Linked DNA regions of Homo sapiens. The protein of the gene in region 3 purifies or fractionates together with the protein of the main gene of each other region. This does not show direct contact. Each region holds a gene or a part of one and is shown on either strand. Other genes may lie near its edges.

Region 1 (3,637 bases), on a different chromosome or scaffold from region 3:
CTGGAGGTAGAGCTCACACATTTCTGGGGGCCCCCTATGACTGGATCCCCTGGATTTTTACCTCTTTTTTTTTAAAAAACAGCTAATTAAAAAAAATATTTAGTAGACAAGAGGTCTCGCTATGTTTTCCAGGTCAGTCTTGAACTCCTGAGCTCAAGTGATCCTCCTGCCTCCATCTCCCAAAGTGTTGGGATTACAGGCGTGAGCCACCGTGCCCAGCCAGATTTTTACACTTAGCCTTTAGTAATTCATTAGTTGCAATTTAGGTTTTCCTACCCCTGTACTGCTTCCCACAGAGATTTTGCTATGGGAGTCTGTTCTAGTAAGTTATGACTCTTTTATCAGTTAGGTTGGTGGGATCCTGTCTAAAATCCAGTACCCAGATACTGTCAAAGCTCAAACTTTGTGAACAAGCATTTCTAAAGATACACAGTCTCAGGGTGGCTAATGTTAACTCTTTTTTCTGCACTCTAGTTACTAGATTTTTTTTTTTTTTTTTTTTTTTGAGACGGAGTCTTGCCCTGTCACCCGGTCTGGAGTGCAGTGGTGCAATCTCAGCTCACTGCAAGCTTCGCCTTCTGGGTTCACGCCATTCTTCTACCTCAGCCTCCTGAGTAGCTGGGACTATGGGCACCCACCACCGTGCCTGGCTAATTTTTGTATTTTTAGTAGAGATGGGGTTTCACCTTGTTAGCCAGGATGGTCTCGATCTCTTGACCTCGTGATCCACCCGCCTCGGCCTCCCAAAGTGTTGGGATTACAGGCGTGAGCCACCGCGCCCAGCCACTACATGTTTGTTACAACAGGTGCTACAGGCCTACCTTACAGAGAGACATTAGGGGTGGCCCAGGCAGTACATACTTCTCCCACCAGAGAGGCATGCTCCTATTCTGCTGTTGCTAGTTCAGTTCTAGCAGCAGAATTGCTTTGTGGAAGGAAGTGAGTCTAGACAGAGGGTAAGTTTGATGACTGTGGAATCTTGAAATAAATGTTTGGAAAGCATAGCATCCTGAGAACTTCTTGGGAATAAAGTCTAGGCCCCCAGTGCTGTCTGTCTCAACCTTCCTCCTCCACACATGGGGGATGTTTCAGGATTCAGTGGCCTTTGAGGATGTGGCTGTGAACTTCACCCTGGAGGAGTGGGCTTTGCTGGATCCTTCCCAGAAGAATCTCTACAGGGATGTGATGCGGGAAACCTTCAGGAACCTGGCTTCTGTAGGTAAGGGTGACAATATTCCTTTCCTCAGTGAATTAGAGAACAAGTGTTTCTAGCTCCTTAACACTTTGGGGAATAAACCAGGCATGGGTACAGGGAATTATGAATATAGAATCTAATACTTTTTTCATAATTTTATACTAATTCATAATGACTTTTCTGGGTCTAAATTTTAGGAAAACAATGGGAAGACCAGAACATTGAAGACCCATTCAAAATTCCCAGGAGAAATATAAGGTAATTTGCACTCACAAAAGAAAGTTCTGTTCCTTGAGAGCATTTCGTATTGTTAGGAATTTTTTTTTTTTTTTTTTTTAGATGAAGTCTCGCTCTGTCGCCAGGCTGGAGTGCAGTGGCACAATCTTGGCTCACTGCAACCTCCGCCTCCCAGGTTCAAGTGATTCTCCTGCCTCAGCCTCCTGAGTAGCTAGGACTACAGGCACGTGCCACCACGCCGAGCTAATTTTTTGTATTTTTAGTAGAGACGGGGTTTCACCATGTTGGCCAGGATGGTCTTGTTCTCTTGACCTCGTGATCTGCCTGCCTCAGCCTCCCAAAGTGCTGGGATTACAGGCCTGAGCCACCATGCCCAGCAGGAATTTTTAAAAGCAAGCAAACAACATATAAGCCCAGCTTCAAACTGTTTTGTTTTTAGAAAATCTTCTCCAAGCCAGGCATGGTGACTCACGCCTGTAATCCCAGCACTTTGGGAGGCTGAGGTGGGCAGATCACGAGGTCAGGAGATCGAGACCATCCTGGCTAACACGGTGAAACTCCGTCTCTACTAAAAATACAAAAAAAAAGTTAGCTGGGTGTGGTGGTGGGTGCCTGTAATCCCAGCTACTCGGGAGGCTGAGACAGGAGAACGGCGTGAATTGGGAGGCAGAGCTTGCTTTGAGCCAAGATGGCACCACTGCACTCCAGCCTGGGTGACAGAGTGAGACTCTGTCTCAAAAAAGAAAAAAAGAAAATCTTCTCCAAAAACATAGTTAAGTGTAACATAGATGTTCAGTGTTTGCAAAATAGTTCAATTATAGATAGTATTAAGAAACTTCATACGAATATCTTTTTTTTTTTTTTTTTGAGAGGGAATTTCACAACTCGTTGCCCAGGCTGGAGTGCAAGGGTGCCATCTTGGCTCACTGCAACCTCCGCCTCCTGGATTCAAGCGATTCTCCTGCCTGAGCCTCCCGAGTAGCTGGGATTACAGGCGCCTGCCACCACACCTGGCTAATTTTTTGTATTTTTAGTAGAGACAGGGTTTCACCATGTTGGCCAGGCTGGTCTTGAACTCCTGACCTCAGGTGATCCACCTGCCTCAGCCTCCGAAAGTGCTGGGATTACAGATGTGAGCCACCACACCTGGCCATGAATATCATTTTCTTTCTTTCTTTTTTTTTTTTTTGAGACAGAGTTTCGCTCTTGTTGCCCAGGCTGAAGTGCAATGGCATGATCTTGGCTCACTGCACCTCTGCCTCCTGGGTTCAAGCAATTCTCCTGCCTCAGCCTCCCGAGTAGCTGGGATTACACGCGTGCTCCACTGCGCCTGGCTAATTTTTTTTATTTTTTATTTTTAGTAGAGACAGGGTTTCTCCACGTTGGTCAAGCTGGTCTTAAACTCCTGACCTCAGGTGATCCTCCTGTCTTGGCCTTCCAAAGTGCCGGGATTACAGGCATAAGCTACTGCGTCTGGCCATGAATATCATTTTTTGATAATAGGTATGGTTGTGACCTATTGCAGACCATTTAGTCCACTCATGTTCAAACAGTTGAGACAGGCATAAAACGTACACTTTCCCTGGTAATGTTAAACATGTGAATCCAAGGCCAGGCATGGTGGCTCACGCCTGTAATCCCAGCACTTTGGGAGGCAGAGGTGAGAGGATCCCTTGAGCCTTGGAGTTCAGGGTTCACGCCTGGGCAACATAGTAAGATTCTGTCTCTGTATTTAAAAACAAGTATATGTAAGTCTAATACCTATTAATAAATATAAAATCATTTATAAACAAAACATTAATAATGTACTTCTCATTTTTCTGACAAGTCATATTCCAGAGAGACTCTGTGAAAGTAAAGAAGGTGGTCAAGGTGAAGAAACCTTCAGCCAGATTCCAGATGGTATTCTGAACAAGAAAACTCCTGGAGTAAAACCGTGTGAAAGCAGTGTGTGTGGAGAAGTTGGCATGGGTCCTTCATCACTTAATAGGCACATCAGAGATCACACTGGACGTGAACCAAATGAATATCAGGAATATGGAAAGAAGTCATATACACGTAACCAGTGTGGACGAGCCTTGAGTTATCATCGCTCTTTTCCAGTACGTGAAAGGACTCATCCTGGAGGAAAGCCCTATGATTGTAAGGAATGTGGAGAAACCTTTATTTCTCTTGTAAGCATTCGAAGACACATGTTAACGCATA
Region 2 (3,382 bases), on a different chromosome or scaffold from region 3:
ATTACATGGAGTCATTTACATCTATGATATTAGATCCATGTTTTACAAAAGGAACACACGTAGAGCCCAGACCACTGTTTCCTGACATGCTAGGCTAAAAGTCAAGATTCGAGACTCAGAATCATTTTGGTCCTCTTCAACATTTTACTCCATCTAATGGCACACTCTACTTATTGGGTCTCCTGAACTCTAGAGCCAGTAACAGTGATCCTAAAGTCATTCTCATGATTTTGCCTGAGGTACAATTTAAATTCTTGGATGACTCCAAATCTGCAGAAATATTAATCTAGAAAAAATAATAGTTATGTGTACAGGAAAAACTGTAAATTTTACTACATGTGAAAAAGATTTCTGCTTATTAAAAAATACCAAAGAGGCCAAAAGATTAGGAAAAGTTACTGAAACAACATATGACAAACACTAACCTTAATATATAAAGAAATATATATATTTCTTAAATATGTAAAGAAATTTGTAATCAGTAAAGATGACCAACAACGTGATGGTGAAACAGAAGAGTTTATAGTAACATGAACATGCCTGTTAAACATTTGAATAAATGATCAGTTTCTCATAACATAGAAATAGAAATGAAATTATAAATTGTGCTGTCTTGTTTGATCAAAAGTTTGATAAAACATTTAATAGTATACATATTCCAGGGAAGATGTTTCCTGTTCTATCTCCCAACACATACAGTGTTATTACCACAATATAGTGTCAAACCGTCAATGCAAAAATCTTTAATCTCCTTGCCCTGATGATATCTGTCTCTACAATATCCAGTACTCCCACGTCAATAAAATTTATACACCCATTTTCTGTTCCCACCTACCACACTAAATTCTTGTGATCTTTCTACTCTGCACTCTGAAATCCACAGTAACTTATTAGCATAATGCCCCCACCTTTTAAAAAAGCATTCTTAATTTGCCTTTTATTGTTTCTTAATTATAGGTTTAGGAAGTTACAAGGGCAGTTGTGTTACATACACATATAGTGTAGTGGGGAAAGTGTTGGCTTTTAATGGACTCATTACCTAAATAATGTACCTTGTACTAAATAGGATTTTTTTTGGTTTTTTTTTGAGATGGAGTCTGGCTTTGTTGCTCCCCCGGCTGGAGTGCAATGGCATAATCTCGGCTCACTGCAACCTCCACCTCCCACATTCAAGCAATTTGCTCTGTTGCCCAGGCTGGAGTGCAATGGCACTATCTCAGCTCACTGCAACCTCCGCTTCTCAGGTTCAAGTAATTCTCCTGCCTCAGCCTCCCAAGTAGCTGGGACTACAGTGCCTGCCACCATGCCCAGCCAATTTTTCTATTTTTAGTAGAGACAGGGTTTCGCCATGTCAGCCAGACTGGTCTCAAACTCTTGACATCATGTGATCTGCCCGCCTTGGCCTTGCAAAGTGCTGGGATTACAGGTGTGAGTGCCTGGCTTATTTTTAATTCTGTGTATGTGATGAATCATGTATTGAGTTGCATATGTTGAGCCATCCTTACACCCCAGGAATAAAATCCACTTGACTGTGCTGTTACTATCTTTTTTATGTACTGTTTGATTTGGTTTGCTAGTATTTTGCTGAAGATTTTTGTGTCTATTTTCATCAGGGATATTGGCTTGTAGTTTTTTTGTGTGTTTTATCCTTGCCTGGCTTCAGTATCAGGATGATACTGGCTTTGTAGAATGAGTTAGGGAGGATTCCCTCCTATAATTTTTGGAATAGTTTCAATAGTGCTGTTACTAGTTCTTCCTTGCATGTCTAGTAGAATTCAGCTGTGAATCTGTCTGGTCCTGGGCTTTTTGTTTTTGCAAGATTTTTTTCTATTACTGATTCAATTTCAATACTCAGTAGTCTGTTGAGGATTCCTATTTCTCCCTGGTTCAATCTTGGAAGGTTATGTGTTTCTAGGAATTTATCCACTTCCTCTAGGTTTTCTAATATGTGCATATAGTTTCTGCTGATATTTTATATGTCTGTGTTATCAGTTATAATATCACCTTATCATTTCTGATTGTATTTATTTGAATCTTCTTTTTTTCTTGGTTAATCTAGCTAGTGGTCTGTCAGTTTTATCTTTGCAAAGAACCAACTTTTTCTTTTATTGATCTTTTGCATTCCTTTGTTCTCAGTCTCATTTTTGCCTGCTCTGATATTTGTTATTGCTTTTCTTCTGCCAGCTTTGGGTTGAGTTTGTTTTGTTTTTTCCTAGTTCCTTGAGATGTGACGTTAGGCTATTCATTTGAGATTTTTCTATCTTTTTGGTGTAGGCATTTAATGCTATAAAATCCTCTCTTAGCACTGCTTTTGCTGTATCTCAGATGTTTTCATGTGTTTTGTCTCTATTTTCATTTATTTCAAAAAATTTTAAATTTCCACCTTAGTTTCATCATTGATCCAAAAATCATTCAGGAGCAAGCTGTTTAAATTCCATGTATCTGTTTTGAGAGTTCCTCTTGGTATTGATATCTAGTTTTATTCCACTATGGTCAGAGAAGATGTTAGATATGATTTTGTTTTTTTAAAATTTATTGATACTTGCTTTGTGGTCCAGTATATGACCTATTTTTGAGAATGTTCCATGCACAGAAGAGAAGAGTATATATTCTGTGGTTGTTGGGTAGAATGTTCTTCAGATGTCTGTTGGGTCCATTTGGTGTAGAGTCCAATTTAAGTCCAGAGTTTCTTTGTTGATTTCTGTCCCAGTGATCTGTCTAGTGCTGTCAATGGAGTGGTGAAGTCCCCTGCTATTGTTGTATTGCTGTCTATCTCTTTTCTTAGGTCTAGTAGTATCTGTGTTATGGATCTGGGTGTTGCAGTGTTGGGTGCATACATATTTAGGATTGTTTTATCTTCTTGTTGAATTTATCCTTTATCATTATAAATGACCTTCTTTGTCCTTTTTAATTTTTGTTGGTATAAAGTCTGTTTTGGCCATCACGGTGGCTCACGTCTGTAATCCCAGCACTTTGGGAGGCTGAGGCGGGCAGATCACTTGAAGTCAGGAGTTCAAGACCAGCCTGGCCAACATGGTGAAACCCCGTCGCTACTAAAAATACAAAAAAAAAAAAAAAAAAAATTAGCCGGGCATGGTGGCGCATGCCTGTAATCCCAACTACTTGAGAGGCTGAGGCACAAGAATCGCTTGAACTCAGGAGCTGGAGGTTGCAGTGAGCTGAGATCACACCACTGCACTCCAGCCTGGGCAACAGAGCGAGACTCTGTCTCAAAATAAAATAAAATAAAATAAATTTGACTAACAACTTATGTATAAAAGGAAATTACAAATATATTAGACAAAATCATTCTAACAGGGTATTATGGGTTGAACTGTATCCCCTAAAAAGATATGCTGAAGTCCTAACCCCTGGTACCGGT
Region 3 (5,598 bases):
TGTTGGGATTACAGGCGTGAGCCACCATGCCTGACCATTGAAATTACTCTTATTTTAAGGTAATGATTTGAAGTAATCAAACATAAAAACAACAAAATACTATCAATTGTTTGTTAGACAATTAAAATCCTAACAATAATAATAAATGAGTTATTTTTTTGTAACTAACATGAATTATACCAACCTTTCAGAAATCTGAGTCTTTCCATCTAATCTGAGGTACCTATGCTGATGATGTTTTAATAGAACCTCTAAGATATCCAGCATCATGGTAAATTGGCTAAATAACACAACTCTATCACCCTGTGAAAATACATACATGAATTAGAAATAGAAAAAATCGTTTTACTACTCAAAGCCTTGACAGGTTTAAACAGTTAGAAGTGTTACTTATATCATGTTGATAAATTTGCAGAAAATTCTCTGTGATAAACTGCTTCTTTAATACAAATCAGTAATACCGAAGACGTATGTCTTATTGCAGCCTATATATGAATAAACTGCCTTAACTTCAGGGCTAAAAGCTAGCTCTCAGTTTTGATTTTAAGAACAGTTAAATTACTTCCTTTTCATAAGAAAAACGTCGGAAAATGTGGACAACTGCTTATGTATGTATTATCTGGACTGTGATTTTACAAATTTAGGCTATTTCACACATAAACGGCAGCATTACTTAAATAACTAACAAATAGTGTCTTTAAAAACTAATTTTGAAGCACACATACAGATTGTCACCTATGAAATAATGACAATTAAGATTTTTTTAAAACATCAATACAGATACAGTCTACTAACTTTCTATTGTTTTTGTCTGAGGTTCAACAGAGGAAAGGAGGTAATCAAGAAAATACGTCAAGAAAATGTTCAAAACACTAAGTTCTGGAAGAATGCAGAACAGACATAGGCTAATTCAAGCAAGTCAGTGTGCCAGAATTGCTTTAAGAAGTTAAAGTAATTGAGAAAATACAAAAGAAACGCCATTCTTTTTTAATACCTTCTGTTTCAATTCAGACAAGATGCATCCTAAAACTCGAAATTTTCCAGAATCTAAAATCAAGTCCATGTCTAACTGAAAGTTATTAATGTGTCGGTACTGTTTACAAAGTACATGTAGTTCGAAGTCTGTCATAACTTCCATATCTTCAAAGATCAGGTCAGGGTTAGCCTCACAATGTGTAGGTTCCTTAAAACAAAACAAAACACAGTATACTTCAAAATAAAAATAATTAATAATATGATGAGAAAAGTTTAATAAAACTGTTTATACCTGATAAAATATCTAAATCATAGAACCTTTTAGTGTAACAGACTTATCAAGGAAAATTAGTATTAATCTTTTAGGTATAATAAAGGGGGAGAAGTCCTTACTGTTTGAGAGATAACATACTAAAATATTTACAGATGAAATAACATCTAGAACTTGGTTCAAAATAACCCTGGGGAGAAGTCTGGGGTATAGATGAAACAAGGGTGGTGTTATTATCAAATGGTAACTTTCAAAGGGGTGAAGTAACATATGGGCAGTTTCATTATGCAATTCTACTTTTATAAATGTTTGAAATTCTCCATAAGTTTAAAATAATAAAAAAAAATTTAAAAAGAAATGGGTTGGTCAGGTGCAGTGGCTCACGCCTATAATCCCAGCACTTTGGGAAGCCGAGGTGGGTAAATCACCTAAGGTCAGGAGTTCGAGACCAGCCTGGCCAACGTGGTGAAACCCCATCTCTACTAAAAATACAAAAATTAGCTGGGCGTAGTGGTAGGTGCCTGTAATCCCAGCTACTCAGGATGCTGAGGCAGGACAATCACTTGAACCTGGGAGGCGGAGGGTGCAGTGAGCAGAGATCATGCCATCGCACTCCAGCCTGGGCGACAAGAGCAAAAGTCTATCTCAAAAAAAAAAGTAAAGAAAAGGAAGAAAATGGGTTGCTTTCAACCAAAGATCAGTAAGGATAAATAAGGTTAAAATGTTAAAGGAGAAAGAGGCAAAAATAAAGAGTAATTGCTAAAATTATAAAGAAATAAAATGAAAAAGAAGTGCATTATGGAAGTCTAGACTAGGAGTTAGCAAACTGTTCCTGTAAAGGGCCAGATCATATTTTAGGCTTTGTAGGCAAAATGACCTGTAAGGCAAGTACTCAACTCTGCCCCTGTAGTGAGAAAGCAGTCCCAGAAAACAAAAACAGGCATGACTGTGTTATAGTAAAACCTTATTTATAAAAATAGTCACTGCCGTAAGGCCATAGTTTGCTGACTTATAATGTAGGTTATCAGTCCTTCTTTGTTTTTATGTCCCCCAGATCATTTTGAACTTAGTCTAAAATGTGTTTTTCGTGTTTCAGTGCAGTGACTGATGCCTGTAATTCCAGCACTTTGGGAGGCCAAGGCGGGCGAATCGCTTGAGCTCAGGAGTTCAAGACCAGCCTGGGCAACATGGCAAAACCCCATCCGTACAAAAAAATTAGCCGGGCATGGTGGTGCGTGCCTGTAGTCCCAGCTATTCAGCAGGCCAACGCAGGAGGATGGCTTAAGCCTAGGAGGCAGAAGTTGCAGTGAGCCCAGACTGCCTGCCTTGGCAACAGAACCAGACCTGGTCTGAAAAAAAAAAGTTTTTCTTAAATATGTAGTTAAAGGTTTAGTATGCCCATTGGGTTCACCAATCTTATAGCCTAACAACTTAACCTCTTATTAAAGCTTAGTGTTAACATAATATGAAATCCTTACCTTTAGCATAAGCTGAGACATTTCCTTGAGTTTTTCAGCTGTGTAATATTGGCGATGTAATAAAGGATGATTGGCCATTTTCCTCAACTGCATCATGACATTGCACATTTCTGTGTTTTTTTCTGTGACTCAAAGAGAACACAGTAAAAAATAAAACCAAGCGGATAACTGTTGAAATATATCAACTAAGTTTTAAAATTATTTCCTCAAATTCCAGATAATTTTTTAAAATGCACAAATCCCATTATATGACTAAACAAAATGCATCCCCAGTACAAGATTCTTTTTCACATAAAAGAGTAAAAATCAGATTATACCCAAGTTATTGATAGATTTTTTCAATCTGTTGAAAAGACCCAAATAGAGTTGCTCCTGCTTCTCCGACATTGCACACAACTCAATTCGATCTTTCTTGGGGGGTAACTGCTTGAGAACCTGAGACAGAAAAAACAGTTTAAGATAATCATTCTAGTAAAGAGAAAAACCTAAGTTTTAAAAACAATAAAAATAAAAAACATGTAGATATGCATTACCTCTTCTTTTACTCTTCTGAGAATAAATGGCTTTATAATTTGTTTTGCATGTGCTATTCTCTCCTTTTCATATATGCTTTGCTCATCTGCTGATTTCTGAGCAAAATAAAAACATATCCTTTTAGGAATTATTCACTTAAATTATTGCAATAACAGTATTATTACACAACATAAAAATCTCCCTCATTAGAGTCTGAGTTATTTTCTGCAGAAACTTGATTCATTCTAGATGGCACTTCACATCTGAATTCTGGGCTGCCATGTACTTCTTGAAGCTCCATATGTATTTTGAAGTTTTATGATACGTAATCATGTTCTCTACTGAAGTAATCAATTTGAACTGTACCAGATGGGTGTTCAGAAGTCATCAACTGATGAGTCATGTATCGATTACCTAGATAACTCTCATTGAAAAATGTGTCTAAGTGTGGGTAAGGAGGAGCGTGGGGGGTAGAAAATCCTTTATTTCTTTGTGGAAAATGGCCCCAAAAGGAAGCTAGTGCAGACTGATGCAAATCACTTGGTCTAAAAATGGGGAATAGTGCTTAGTCAGAACTGGTGACTCTGGAGAATTAAGAAGTAGAATTTTATTCTAGGATGTGAAGGAGTCCTCCATATATTATGAACTGAAGATAGAAAATGGTTCATAAAATCTGCTAGGCCATTTAAAACACTGTACATTAAGTGGGAGGGAATTCAAATTAGTAAATGTTTAAAAGGCAGTTAATTTGCAGTGGACGAGTATCACAGAAAATTCTTGCAAAAGATTAGTGATGTGGAAGAGAGCCAAGAATCAGTGTAAACACTGCGGTATTGAAAAAACTGGGAGTTCTTGAAGACTATACTTTTCCTAAACAATAAAGAAGTAACAAAACTTTTCTTGTGAAGAGGATTTCTTTACTGTCGCTTTTAGTTGTGACTTTGGTTTTATGAACTTTTATTTCAGAATATATTTCTCAGCATAGGCATTTTCTGGATATTCTAGCTTTGTCTAGTTTTATAGTTTACCCATAAAGAAATGTTACTAATTTACGTAGCCAATTTTGATACAGATGATGTAATGATCAAACTTTCCGCACATACTATATATCTGAGCTCTTCATCAATTTAAAATCGTCATCCTTCAGAAAATTAGGATATTAACCAAGACTTCTGGCCATTGATTAGGGAAATTGCTATTTTCTTTCCCATTATATTTTGGCTGGTTTCCAAACCAATCCAAATATAGAGTTATCACCTACTTAAAGTTACTTCATAGAGCATATGCACTATGAAAACAACAAAAGAGACCTAACAGAAGAATGGCCCAGATAAAACACAAATAACATATTTGGGAGAAAATATGCATTTATGCTTACTGTCTTAGAGGAAAACATTCTTCGTATTTCACTGGTGCTACTACTAAACATGTGTGGCATAACAAAATTCAACAGCGACATGAGTTCTAACAGATTGTTCTGTACAGGTGTGCCTGTGAGCAGCAAACGGTTATTTGCCTGTGAATGAAGGTAAAATTTATATTAGCTTTTTCTTAAAGAGCCACTCCTTTCATGTCTATCCTCCCCAGTGAAAGGTGAAGGGAGGAGAGATAAATTAAAACCATTATTAATAATTTAACATTCTGTGATAAATGATATAGTAATTTAAATAATTGACGTCCGCTATTATCAACAGCAATGAATACGAAAACCATTGGTCTTCTTTTATAAGTAGGTAACTTGTGTCCTCGTATCACCTTTATGAGATGATGAAAGATTATTTATAAATAGTTTAACATATAGAACAGGTAAATTATGGCTTATGACCTAATAATTTTTTAAAGGGTTGTTAAAAAACAAAATCAAAGAATACGTGACAGAGGCCATCTAGTCCATAAAGTGTGAAATATTTACTATCTTCCCTTTTACAGAAAAAACTTGCTAACACAGAATACTACATATATTAAACTACATAATACAGATTCTGCTAATAAATACTACATATATTAAATTACGTAATCTAAATTTTACAGTAATTTGGAAAACTTTACAAACATTCTCTTACATTAATTGTCATAAGGTGCTGGTAGCGAATGGAGCCCATATTCTTCAGCATATGGCCCTCATCAAAAATTGCGTAATTAAGTTTCAGCCGTCGAAACAGACTACGGTCATCAGAACTGCTGATCGCACAGTTATATCTGTCACCAAAAGAAAAAACATCTCTAAGGTTATACCTTTAAGAGCTTGGAGTCTAGTGAAATTTAATGTCTTATAAAATCATTTTTTATTTACACATTTCTAACAGCCAGTACTTAAAGCACAGCACTAGACACGGGTGATACTCAAATAAATACTGACGT
Region 4 (4,128 bases), on a different chromosome or scaffold from region 3:
GAAAGGTGCGACTCCAAAGGAAACATACTCTAGAATTCCATTTATATGACATTCTGGAAATGATATAAACTATACAGACAGAAAATGAGTCAGTTGACAAGGGCTGGTGGTGGGGAGAGGAGCTGACTAAACAGAACAAGCAAGTTTCAGGGCAGGGGGTACTAGAACTATAGACTATCTTGATTGTGATGGTGGTGTTCACATAACAGCACTTGCCAAAATGCATGATAGAGTCAGTTTCACTGTATATAAATTATTCCCTAATTAAAAAAAGAATGTTAGCTTATATGATTTTCATGGATGCCTTTTATCTCATTGAAGAATTTTTTCATCATGAGTGGATGCTAAATTTTGTCAAATGTTTTCTCTGAATCTACTGAGATGATCATACATTTGATCATAAGAATCCAGATATAAGAGTACATACTAAATCCATAGGAAGCTCAGGAACAGACCTAATTAATTTATGGTATAGAAATCATAATACTTGGCACTGGAGGTGGGATTGACTGGAAATGGGCACAAGAAAACTTTTTGGTTTAATAGACATATTGTATACATTGATCTTGGTGATGATTACATTTGTCAAAATTCAGAAAGCCATGAACTTGAGACTTGTGCATGTTACTGCATGCAGATTACACCTCAATAAAGTACTGTTAACATACAAAACTTCTAGTTGCTAGCCAGAAACTGATTTCTGAACCCACTAACAAGCTGCAACCTTCAGTTTGATAAACACTTGTCCACGAGATCTGCAAAAATGGGAAAATCAGGCCATATGACTAACTTATATATCCTCCAAGCCTTGCAGAATTCTTCTGAGTACAATTTTAGAGAAACTTCTAGAGATAAATAAAAATGTCAAATATTACTGAATTTCAAATATGACAGTAATTTCAAATACTACTGAAAAATTACAACGTATTAGGCACTGAAAAGGCAGAGTAGATTTGGCAGTCAACAAAGTCCCTGCCCTCTTGGATCTTATATTCTAGTGGAACAGAATTCAGCATTTCTATCTTAGTACTTCTGATTTACTCCAGATCAGACTCATCCTTCCTGATCCTCTTGTCTGCATGTATCAGCTAATGGTCAATGTTCTGAATGCAGTCCATATGTCTCCACTCTTGTGAGGCTTCTCTGCTGTGTGGTCTCCCAATCACTTGGCTGAACTACTGACTCTATAAAACAAATGTTTTGTCTATGATAGCTCTGATTATTAAAATATTTCAGCACCCATCTGAGATAGTAAAACATATTTTATCGAGTTTTCCTGTGTGAATCCTCTGATGAAGGAAAGTCCTTGTCACCCTCATCATCAGCATGGACTCGCTGATGAATGATAAGACTTGAGCTCCAACTGAAGCCCTTCCCACACTCCTCACATTTGTATGGTTTTTCTCCGGTGTGAACTCTTTGATGGGCTTGAAGGTATGAGCTCCAGCTGAAGACTTTCCCACATTCCTCACATTTGTATGGTCTCTCTCCTGTGTGGACCCTCTGGTGGGCTTGAAGGTAGGATCTCTGTCTGAAGCGCTTACCACACACATCACATCGGTATGGTTTTTCTCCTGTGTGGACTCCACGATGTGCCAGAAAATTGGAGGCCCGACAGAAGCCCTTCCCACACTCCTCACATTGATAGGGTTTCTCTCCAGTGTGGCACCTCTGATGGGCTTGAAGCTGTGAACCTACACTGAAGCCCTTCCCACACTCTGCACACTGATATGGTTTCTCTCCAGTGTGAACTCTCTGATGCACCTGAAGGCTGGAGAACTGACTGAAGGCCTTACCACACCTCTCGCATTTATAGGGTTTCTCTCCTGTGTGGATTCTACAGTGTACATTAAGATCTGAGCTCCGACTGAAGCCCTTCCCACATGTACCACATTTGTAGGGTTTCTCTCCAGTGTGGCCTCTTTGATGGGCCAGAAGATTTGAGGCCTGGCTGAAGCCCTTGCCACACTCCTCACATTTATAGGGTTTTTCCCCTGTATGGACTCTAAAATGAATGTTAAAATCTGAGCTACGACTGAAGCCCTTACCACATGCATCACACTGATACGGTTTCTCTCCAGTATGGCCTCTTTGATGGTCCAGCAGATTTGAGGCCCGGCAGAAGCCTTTCCCACACTCCTCACATTTGTATGGCTTCTCTCCAGTGTGGCTTATCTGATGGGCCTGAAGGTGTGAACCCACACTGAAACCTTTCCCACACTCCTCACACTTATAGGGTTTCTCTCCTGTGTGGATTCTACAATGAATATTAAGGTGTGAGCTGTAACTAAAGCTCTTGCCACATGCATTGCATTTGTATGGTTTCTCGCCAGTGTGGATTCGCTCATGAGCCTGCAGTCGTGAACGCCAACTGAAGCTCTTCCCACACTCTTCACACTTATATGGTTTCTTTCCAGTGTGAACTTTCAGATGAACTTGAAGATATGATCTCTGACTGAAGCCCACCCCACACTCCTCACATTTATAGGGTTTCTCTCCCGTATGAACTATCAGAGGAGCTTGACAATGTGAGCTTTTCCCAACATTCCTCCCACACTCTTCATATTTGTATGGATTCTCTCCAGTGGGAACTCTCTGATGATGGGGAAGATGTGACCTCTGACTAAAACTCCTGTAACTTGCATCATTTGTGTATGATTTTGCTCTACTGTGGACTCTCTGATGGGCTTGAAGACTTGAAAACCGACGGAAGGCATTATCACATTTTTCACATTTGTAGGGCTTCTCTCCTGCATGAGCCCTTTGGTTAATTTGAAGATGAGAGCTCCAGCTGAAACTTTTCACACAATGTTCTCCTTTGTAGGGTTTTTCACCAGTGTGGACTCTGTGAACTTGAAGATGGGAACTCTGATTACTGAATCCCTCATCTTTATAGTGCAAATCATCTCGTTTTTCCAACTGGCAGCCTGTTCTTTGAATATTTACCACAGAATCTTGATACTTGATTAACTCTCTTGTAATCTGTTGCCAGATCTGGGAGCAGAAAAGCTCTTCATGAGGCAGGTACCTTAATCCTACTTCTTGAAGAGTCTCCATCTCTTTTAGATTCTTGGCTCCTAAAAGGATAAAGAAAATGTGGAGATGGGGCATGTGAATAATGTTTTGTTCCAAGATGTCAAGTTTATAAACTCGGGCCCATAGCCTAAGGCTTCATTGAACCAGGAGAAGGTTCCATTGCCTACTGCATAGACATCTGAACAAAGTGGCCCTGTTCAAAATGTCTAGTAAAACTCCTACACATAAATTTTCAAAAACCTTTGCCTGGGATTATTTCATTGGAAGTTTATTCCAAGGTTGGGAGATGTTGAGGCACTGTGCTAGTTAGAAAGACACATTTTTCAGAAAATACCTTATCACCTAAGTCAGGGCCCCCAACCCCTGGGCCGTGGATCAGTACCAGTCCGTGGCCTGTTAGGATCTGGGCCACACAGCAGGAGGTGAGCGGGAGGCCAGTGGGCATTACTGCCTGAGCTCTGCCTCCTGTCACATCAATGGTGACATTAGATTCTTATAGGAGTGCGAATCCTATCGTGAACTGCGCGTGCGAGGGATCTAGGTTGCGTGAGAATCTAATCTTATGAGAATCTAACTGAGGTCTGATGATCTGAGGTAGAACAGTTTCATTTCAAAACCATCCCCCCGACCCCAGTCTGTGGAAAAACCATCTTCCAACAAACCAGTCCCTGGTGCCAAGATTGGGGATCACTGACCTACATACCTAAAGTTCGAGTGTAAACAGATAGTGGTCCTTTACCTCTTGCTAGGAAATAGCCTCCATGAGAACACCTGGGAGAAGAGGTTTATGGTAATAACACACATTATTCTAAAACCTGATAGCAATTAAAGTTTCCATAACCACCAGGGGGGTTTCACCATGTCGGTCAGGCTGGTCTCAATCTCCTGACCTCGTGATCCACCTGCCTCGGCCTCCCAAAGTGCTGGGATTACAGGTGCGAGCCACCGGCACCTGGCCTTCTTTTTGTTTTTTTGAGACAGAGTCTCACTCTGTCACCCAGGCTGGAATGCAGTGGCACAAACATGGCTTGCTGCAGCCTCAACCTCCTGACTCAAGTGATTCTCCTGCCTTATCCCCCCAAGCTGCTGGGA

Evidence for each region.
Region 1: the proteins of SMARCAD1 (region 3) and ZNF627 purify together in Homo sapiens (co-immunoprecipitation; one large-scale study listed by IntAct). This does not show direct contact.
Region 2: the proteins of SMARCAD1 (region 3) and ZNF829 purify together in Homo sapiens (affinity purification with mass spectrometry, with the first as the bait; one study listed by BioGRID). This does not show direct contact.
Region 4: the proteins of SMARCAD1 (region 3) and ZNF45 purify together in Homo sapiens (co-immunoprecipitation; one large-scale study listed by IntAct). This does not show direct contact.

What each region holds. Positions count from the first base shown.
Region 1 is NC_000019.10:11,613,435-11,617,071, forward strand, and holds part of ZNF627 (zinc finger protein 627), read left to right. Parts: intron 1-1,092; coding exon 1,093-1,219; intron 1,220-1,392; coding exon 1,393-1,453; intron 1,454-3,260; coding exon 3,261-3,637. UniProt on the Homo sapiens protein: May be involved in transcriptional regulation.
Region 2 is NC_000019.10:36,887,624-36,891,005, forward strand, and holds the end of ZNF829 (zinc finger protein 829), read right to left. Parts: 3' UTR 501-3,382; downstream 1-500. UniProt on the Homo sapiens protein: May be involved in transcriptional regulation.
Region 3 is NC_000004.12:94,276,177-94,281,774, reverse strand, and holds part of SMARCAD1 (SWI/SNF-related matrix-associated actin-dependent regulator of chromatin subfamily A containing DEAD/H box 1), read right to left. Parts: intron 5,437-5,598; coding exon 5,301-5,436; intron 4,754-5,300; coding exon 4,616-4,753; intron 3,354-4,615; coding exon 3,258-3,353; intron 3,160-3,257; coding exon 3,042-3,159; exon of another isoform or gene 2,853-3,041; coding exon of another isoform or gene 2,847-2,852; coding exon 2,725-2,846; intron 1,184-2,724; coding exon 995-1,183; intron 304-994; coding exon 185-303; intron 1-184. UniProt on the Homo sapiens protein: DNA helicase that possesses intrinsic ATP-dependent nucleosome-remodeling activity and is both required for DNA repair and heterochromatin organization.
Region 4 is NC_000019.10:43,912,124-43,916,251, forward strand, and holds the end of ZNF45 (zinc finger protein 45), read right to left. Parts: intron 3,078-4,128; coding exon 1,264-3,077; 3' UTR 501-1,263; downstream 1-500. UniProt on the Homo sapiens protein: May be involved in transcriptional regulation.